Linked DNA regions of Homo sapiens: regions 2 and 3 are each linked to region 1. Evidence: fine-mapped expression QTL. A gene starts in region 1. Each other region holds a variant in brackets. All regions are shown on one strand. Distances are between the middles of the regions.

What was found. PIP is the estimated chance that this variant, and not a neighbour inherited with it, causes the effect.
Region 2: its variant is fine-mapped to the expression of MRPL27 in whole blood (TOPMed, PIP above 0.99).
Region 3: its variant is fine-mapped to the expression of MRPL27 in whole blood (TOPMed, PIP above 0.99). The same link has a PIP of 0.9 or more in nasal epithelium.

What each region holds. Positions count from the first base shown.
Region 1 is chr17:50,371,776-50,374,625 of GRCh38, forward strand. It overlaps MRPL27 (mitochondrial ribosomal protein L27), which reads right to left and starts at 1,409. Exons shown (of 4, transcript NM_016504.3): 1 at 1,356-1,409. The coding sequence starts at 1,395. EME1 (essential meiotic structure-specific endonuclease 1) reads left to right here and starts at 1,454. Exons shown (of 9, transcript NM_152463.4): 1 at 1,454-1,502. RefSeq lists enhancers at 943-1,412, 1,553-1,772.
Region 2 is chr17:50,338,352-50,341,201 of GRCh38, forward strand. No RefSeq gene overlaps it. Among named protein-coding and RNA genes, the nearest start is that of XYLT2, 6.3 kb to the right of the region's middle. The variant T/C (reference allele first, on the strand shown) is at 1,390.
Region 3 is chr17:50,347,779-50,350,278 of GRCh38, forward strand. All of the region lies in intron 1 of XYLT2 (xylosyltransferase 2), which reads left to right. Among named protein-coding and RNA genes, the nearest start is that of XYLT2, 2.9 kb to the left of the region's middle. The variant C/T (reference allele first, on the strand shown) is at 1,330.

The sequences.
Region 1 (2,850 bases):
CCTTTAAACATCTATTCATTCATTTACATACTTACTAAGCTCAGGAGCTGGGCTTTTACTTTACTTACATTATCTCACTCACAAATCTTTGCTCTTCACCCTACTCCCCATCCTCCTCCTCAAAGTAAATGGTACCACCATTCATCCAGTTGCTTAGGCAGAAACCAGAGTCATTGCAGATTCCTTCTCTTTGCTGTCCTCACATATTGTTCACCAGCAAGCTCTGTGGATGCTAACTCCAAAACAGATCTCAAATTCATCCGTTTTCCTCCAAGTTCACTGCCACCACAAACATCTTGGCTAAATCATCTCTCCTCAGGGCTATTACGACTTTCCATTTGATTTCCTCATTTCCACTCCTATCCCCTTTAAATTTACATAAGAGCAATAGTTTGCTTCTCAAAATGTAAAACTGGCTCAAGTCACTCTCCTGTCCCTCACTCTACACAGGTCTAGGTCTCCTGTCATTCTTTTTTTTTTGGGGGGGGGGGATAGGGCCCCATTCTGTCACCCAGGCTGGAGTGCAGTGGTATGAACATAGCTCACTGCAACCTCGACCTCCCGAGCTCAGGTGATCCTCCCACCTCAGCCTCCTGAGTATCTGAGACCACAGGCAAGCGCCACTACACCCAGCTAATTTTTGTATTTTTTGTAGAGATGGGGTTTTGCCATGTTGCCCAGTCGGTCTTGAACTCCTGGGCTCAAGCGATCCGCCCACCTAGGCCTCCCAAAGTGTTGGGACTACAGGCGTGAGCCATCACGCCCCGCCTGTCATTCTTTAGGTTTTAAATGTTATCTCCTCAGAAGCCTTCCTTCACCGTCCAATCTAAAAAAAGACACACACACAGACACACATTATCCTTCTTCACAGCACTTGCCAGTCTACATCTACTTTATATGTTCATTTATTGCCTTATGCACCAGAGAGAACCGTTCGGGGGCTAGAAGCCAAGTCTTCACGTTTTCTGCTGATTTTCCGAACACCTACCGCCGTGTCTAGCACAAAGTAAGACCTCAATCTGCTGAATCAATAGATTAATTTTTTCAACCCCAATATGCCAATGTTACTAATACTTCTACAGAGAAAGGACCCACCCAAATCCCCAACCGCCAAGGAACCCGTCCGTGCTGCTGAGGCAGGAGAAAGACAAGTGCTCTTCAAACGCCCTCACTCACGGCTCCACCCAGGATGTGTCACGTGACCAGCGACACCGTCCCTCAAACCTGGAGTACCCCACACACTTCCCCTCGCATCCAAGGTCCTCCGCGGGGATCAGTGTCACCTCCTTCCCTCCCTGCTGGAGCTCCACTCTGCCTCCCCGCCTCACCCCGCTCTGACTACTGCGTCCCATTACCGGCTGTCCGGGTCCTCAGCGCCAACACCACCGACGCCATGCTTTCGATCACTCACTTCCGGTCTCGAAAAGTTTCTACTTCCGCTATCAGGAGATCTACTTCCGGGCCCTGCGTGGCAGTTGAAAGAGTGGCGGGAGAAGTTGCAGGTGAGCGTCCCCGGTCGCAGGCCTGCGGATTGGGCAGGGCTTCCCTCCTGAACACCGCTCTGCAGAATCTTGGTGGCTAAGGTGTCCAGGAGCCTCTGCAGCGGACCGCCAGCCTGAGAGGCGCAGAGCTTGTCGGGCAGGGGCCCGCTTGTCCCACTCCCCTGATTTGCAGATGTCAACGGAGGCCCAGCGAAGGGTCAGAGATGAGGCCCCCTCCCTAGTCATTCAACTTACTCTACTTAGCCAGCTGTGTGCCAGATGCTGTACTAAGCGCGGTGGATGCATTATTTTATTTAATTCTCACTACCTTATAAAATGGGTGCTGTTACCATCCCTGTTTTACTAAGGAAGAAACTGAGGCCTAGGCAGGTTACATGTCTCCTTCTGGGTCATACCTACAGTGTTAGTAAATGTTCAAGAAATGATTAGCTTTGCATATGACCCAGCAATTCTACTCCTAGGTATATACACGAAAGGGATTTGAAAACATACCCCCACAAAAACTTGTATGTCAGTGTTCATAGCAGCATTATTCATAACAGGCAAAAAAAGGAAACAAATTAAATGTCCAAGTGATGAATGGATAAACAAAATGTAGCATATCCATACAGTGGAATATTATTCAGTCATGAAAAGCAATTAACTACTGATACAGGCTACATCATAGATAAACCTTGAAAACAAGCTGAGTGAAAAAAGTCAATCACAAAAGGCCACATAGTGTATGATTCTATTTATATGAAATATCCAGAATAGGCAAATGCATAGAGACAGATTTATGGTTGCCAGGAGCTGGGGAGGGAGGGAAAGGACAGTGACGGCTTAATGGCTGCAGGAATTCTTTTTGAGGTGATAAAATAGTGATGATGGTTGCACAACATTGTGAATATACTAAAATCTACTGAATGTACACTTTTAAAAGGATATTATGCTGTGCAAATTATATCTCTATTTTTATTTTTATTTTATTTTTCTTTTGAAGCAGGGTCTCACTCTGTCACCCGGGCTGGAGTGCAGTCGTACAATCACAGCTCACTGCAGCCTTGACCTCCCAGGCTCAAGCAATCCTCCCACCTCAGCCTCCTGAGTATCTGGGACTACAGGTGTGAGCCACCATACCCAGCTAATTTTTGTATTTTTTTGTAGAGACGAGTTCTCACTATGTTGCCCAGGCTGTTCTCGAACTCCTGGGCTCAAGTGATCCTTCTGCTTTGGCCTCCCAAAGTGCTGGGATTATACGCATGAGCTACCATGCCCAGCCTATATCTCAATTTTTAAAAAGAACAGTTTTTGGCCAGGTGCAGTGGTTCACACCTGTAATCTCAGCACTTTGGGAGGCCAAGGCGGG
Region 2 (2,850 bases), 33 kb before region 1:
CAATGGAGTGAATAGCACAGAAAATATTAAGGAAAGCCATTAAGTAAGTTGATAAAAGCTGTACCAACCCTGGTACTGCTGGAAGAGAAAAAGGAGAATAGAAGATTTTACCAATCCAACAGAATATAGTAAAGGGAAAAAAAGTGGAGAAAGAAGGCAGTGAGCAGAAAATGTGGAATAATCATAATCAAAGAAAATCCAAATAATCCATTAATGGCACTAAATGTAAACTGATTAAAGAAACAGTAAAACTTAGAGTATCAGATTGAGTTTTAAAAATCAAAATCCTCTTGTATGTTACTAATATTTTCCTTGAATTCTGAAATAATCTCAGCTATCATAGCTTCAATATTATTTCCTTGCCATTTTCCTTATTTTCTTACTCTGGAAATCCTGTTATACATAGTTTGAGTCTCTCAATCTATTCTCCTACTCTTCAAACTGTTCTTATTTTTAATCAAAGTACCTCTTTTTGCTGCATTCACTGTCAATTCTTTAGAGCTATCTTCCAATTCACTAATTTTATCTTCAACTATATCCAGTCTAAAGTTCACCCTATCTTTTGAGATATTTTTATTGCTTTTCTACATTTTTATTTCTGAGATGTATAATTATTTATATTTCATATGTATATCTTCATTTCATTTTCATCTACATTTGTTTCATAATTTCTTGTTTGTCAGATGATTTCTTCATTTACTTCTTTGAGCCATCCTTATTTTCAAGTCTTTGTCATATGAGTCCAAGAGATGAATTTCATGTGGAGAAAGTTCATATTCCAGTTGTTGAATTGCTTGGCTATCTTTTTTATCATTCCATTTCTTCATGTCCTTTGGAATTTGGGTTTACAGGCTCATTGTAGCTGAGAATTTTTGTTTTTGCATTGTGCTTTTTACTCTCTCCTTTTTTGTCTGGTGGGTTTAGTTTCGTCATGGCATTCACTGTGCCCTAGTCCAGAAATAGTTTTGTGATAGTGGTTGGGAACTCATGCTCTTCACTGATATTGGGAGATGTGCAGACCCAGAGTTAGAGGATGGCTTGACCTAAGTCTGGGTTGTGAGGCTGTTTTTGTTCTGCAGCCTTCCTAGGTCCACCATTTGGGCCATAGCTCCTGAGATCTGGTCAGCTGCACTTTTTGTTTTCAGTCTCCTTTCACAAGCAGGGTAGCCTCACTCTAGTCTGTGGCTGCTGCCAGAGTCTGGTTCCATCCCCCATTCCCTGTGCAACATTTTAGTTCCCATTACCCCATAGGCCCTTGGCTTTGGTCCTACTCACCACTTTGCTTTCCAGTTTGTTCTCTTTCTTATCCACCTAAATGTTTATCCTGTTTTTAAGCTTGTATATATCTTATCAATGCCTTTAAAAACTTTATCTCTCATTGTTAAGTAT[T/C]TGGAGAATAGAGAGTGGGTCAAAGTATGAACTTTCCAACCTTCCCCTCATTATTTTATTTATTAATTTATTTCTTTTTTGAGACCGAACCTAGCTCTGTCACCCAGGCTGGAGTGCAGCGGCCTGATCTTGGCTCACTGCAACCTCCACCGCCCGGGTTCAATTCTTCTACCTCAGCCTCCTGAGTAGCTGGGATTACAGGCACGTGCCACCATGCCCAGCTAATTTTTGAATTTTTAGTAGAGACAGGGTTTCACCATGTTGGCCAGGCTGGTCTCAAATTCCTGACCTCAAATGATCCACCCCCACTTGGCCTCCCAAGTGCTGGGATTACAGGTGTGAGCCACCACACCTGGCCTCATTAATGTTTCAGTCACTTGGAATGGAGTGGAGACAGAGTTTCTACTTCTCACAGTGGAAATATACTAGCCAATAGAATCTGGGGGTGAAAGAGCTGAGCACTGAGACTGCAACCCTGGGAGTCCAAGTAATGGGCACTTTGTCTAGGCTTAGTAAGCAGGTCAAGGAAGTGGATCAGAGGAGCAGTGAAAGCCCGTATGGGCAACTTCTAATTATGGACCAGCTTCCTATAGCAACCCCATGTAGAAGTAAGATGATTTGCAGGAGCAGAATATTCCATCACCAGTGCTCTTCAGCTTGGGTGTGGAAGCCCAGTTCATATCCCCGGGTGAATTACACGTGCCCACCCCACAGGCTTTTTAGACAACTAGAGGACCAAAGAGGAAGCGAATATTGCATATGGGCTCTCGGCTGGCTAAATAGAAAAATGAAAGATATGTGGACCTTTCATTTTTGGAACACTTCATACTGTTGACATACAATATAAATAAAATAACTGCAAAAGAAAAATAAGAGAGATGCAGTGGAGTGTTTACATTTTTCTCTAGAATAACATTCATAATGACGATGTTGATTCTGTTAAGTAAGAATTATAGGAGGCCATTGTTTTGTACTGAGCTCCTGCACTAGGCTCCAACAGACCAGACTAAAAATCAAAATGGATTCACTCATGCTGGGGTTTCAAAATTGATATTTTGTCCTTTAATACCTCTATTTTCCCCCTATTGGTTATTTTGTGCTATCAGAATTTTGTGCTATTTTTTGGCAGGAGATGGGAGGATGGTCAAAAGTCAAAATTACAACAAAAATAGTTTAAAGATCTTAATTGGCTTTATTTGTGATTCTAGAATCAGGCAACACTTCACCCATAAAATAGAAAAGTATTCCAGGGAGCCCAGCAGAGGAGGTTGGGCTTACAGACAGAGAAGGGCTGAAAACAGCAGATGCAATGAGCAAAGAGCATCTTCATTAATTTTCAAAGTTACTTTTTTGTGGTAAGGCAGGAATATAGAGACAGAACAATAGAAAATAACTGATGAGTGAACATCAGGTTACTTCAGGCTAACTTTGTAATGTAAGGATTAAAGCAGAGGGAACTTA
Region 3 (2,500 bases), 24 kb before region 1:
CTCCCTCACCTGACTCTGGGGTTGCCAGGCAGCATAACGGGGTGCATGGGAAGGTGAGTGCTGAAGCTGGACCACCCACTTCACCACTCTCTTCCAGCTCTGACCCTGAGAAGACCACCAGCAAATCACTTTGCCTCCTCCCTTATCCTTATCAGTATCCCTCCTCAAGATGGGGATAATAATGGCACCTCCCGTGTTAGGTGATTATAAAGATTAAGTGAAAATGATGCCTGTGAAGCACTTGCAGGAGTTCCTGGCACATGCTCAGCTGTCAGTAAATAAATAACTCTTATTATCCCAGCACTGTGCATTGGGAATACGATTCATTCATTCATTCATTCATTCCACAAATAGGTGTGAAGTCCTACTTTGTACTAGACACTGTGCTAATACTGGGGATACAAAAATAAAATAGATGAGGTCTCTGCCCTCATGGACAGGTAATCTACAGAGAGAAACAGACAGCGAAAAGGAATTTAATAGAATTACAAAGGGGTTGGCTTAGATCAGGGGGTCAGGAAAGGCTTCTCACAGGAAGAGGTGGGCAGGAGAGTTCAGGCAGAAGGCCTGAGGAGAATGGGCTTAGCTGGGCACCCTTGAGGAATGGACAGGAGGGTGTGGTGCTTTCCCTGAAAGAAGGTTCCATTCTGTGCGGCTGAAAGGACCAGAGCAAGGGGCAAGGGTTTTATTCTAAGTGCAGTGGGAGAGCACTGAAGGGGTTTAAGCAGCACAGGATTCAGTGTGCATTTAAGACGTGCACTCTGCCCATCTATGGAGAGGCTGAGAGTGGATCCCAGGGATGGTCACGAACCTCCAGAGAGCCACTTTATAGTTTCCAAAGCTTCCACAAACACCATCTCACCACTTGTTTTAAATGCAGCCCGAGAAGTCAAAGGAGGTGGGGTATGGGGGGAGCATTTCTGTGTTCACCCTTTCTGTGACTCAGAGAAGGATTCTAAGGTGGAGCTACAGAGCCAGGAAGTGGCAGAGGATTTTAATCGCCTCCTTGGAGGAGAGGAAGGAGCCTCTGAGGCCAGAATGTATCCCAGCCAGAAGTCAGAGGACCATTCCCTACCCTCAGTCATCAGAAGGGCTCCTGACCTCAGGGGCTGCTGGGGGCAGCCTGTGAGGGGCACAAGGCTGGGGCTGTGATGACGATGCTCCTTGGACATGCCTGGAAGGGATGGAGGTGGGGGCTGACTGCCCACCAGGGCCTCTGCTCCCTCACTGCTGCCTCCTCATCCCCCAGCCTCCTCTGGGATTGTCCTTCTCAGGGTCAGCCAGCTCCCACTGCAGTGCAGGGACCAACATGCCCATCTCCTCCCACAT[C/T]CTGGCCCCCACCACAGCCAACCTGGCCCCGTGCCTCATGCCCTGCCCTCCTGACCAGCTTCCTAACTCACTGATACTGGCTTCCACTCGGAGAGCCTACAGCTCTCTGCCATCTACCCACCTAAGCTTGGGAATGTCTTTCTCTGCTTGTGCTCTGTAGCCAGCTCACATGTCACCAGGCTGATGCACACTCAGCTCAGTGGGGCTGCATTTACCTTTCCTAGGGATTCCCCAGCCTGTGGTGCCCTCCCCAGTGTGGGTAGAGAATAGGGTCTGCTGCCTCCTCTTGCAGGTATCTCTTCTCGGATGGGAATGGGCGCCCCCAGCTCCCACTGGCCACCTTTAAGAGATCAGAGGGCAACCGGGCACTGTGGCTCATGCCTGTAATCTCAGCACTTTGGGAGGCCAAGGTGGGAGAAGCGCTTGAGTCCAGGAGTTCGAGACCAGCTTGGATAACATAGCAAGACTATCTCTATTAAAATAAATAAAATAAAAAGATCAGAAGGCTGGCTGGGTGCTAGGCACAGAGGGCATGGATGTAGGCATGGGGCTCTGGCCTGAAGGTAGCTGTCAGCCTGACAGCATGAGGTTCCTGATGTGCCCATACTGGTAGTGGGTAGGGTGTGGGTAGGGTAGTGGGTAGGTTGGGGGAAGTCCTGGGGAGGTGAGGAGCACAGAGAACCCAACCCAGCCGAGTCCAAGATGTCCAGGATCTTGGGTCTCTCTTGACTTCACGTTTGACTAATTTCCTCCTCCCATCTGAGTAATCATAATGATAAAGATAGCAGCATTGGGCCAGGTATGGTGGCTCACGCCTGTAATCCCAGCACTTTGGGAGGCTGAGGCGGGCAGATCACTTGAGGTCAGGAATTTGAGACCAGCCTGGCCAATATGGTAAAGCCCAGTCTTTACTAAAAATACAAAAAGTTGCCAGGCATGGTGGCACATACCTGTAATCCCAGCTACTTGGGAGGCTGAGGCACGAGAATCGCTTGAACCTGGGAGGCAAAGGTTGCAGTGAGCTGAGATCACGCTACTGCACTCCAGCCTGGGCGACAGAGTGAGACTGCGTCTCAAAAAAAAAAAAAAAAAAAAAAAAAGTACCAGTACTTACTGAATGCTGTGCCTATGCCAAAAGCTTTGCATTCATTCATTCATTCATTCAAAAAAT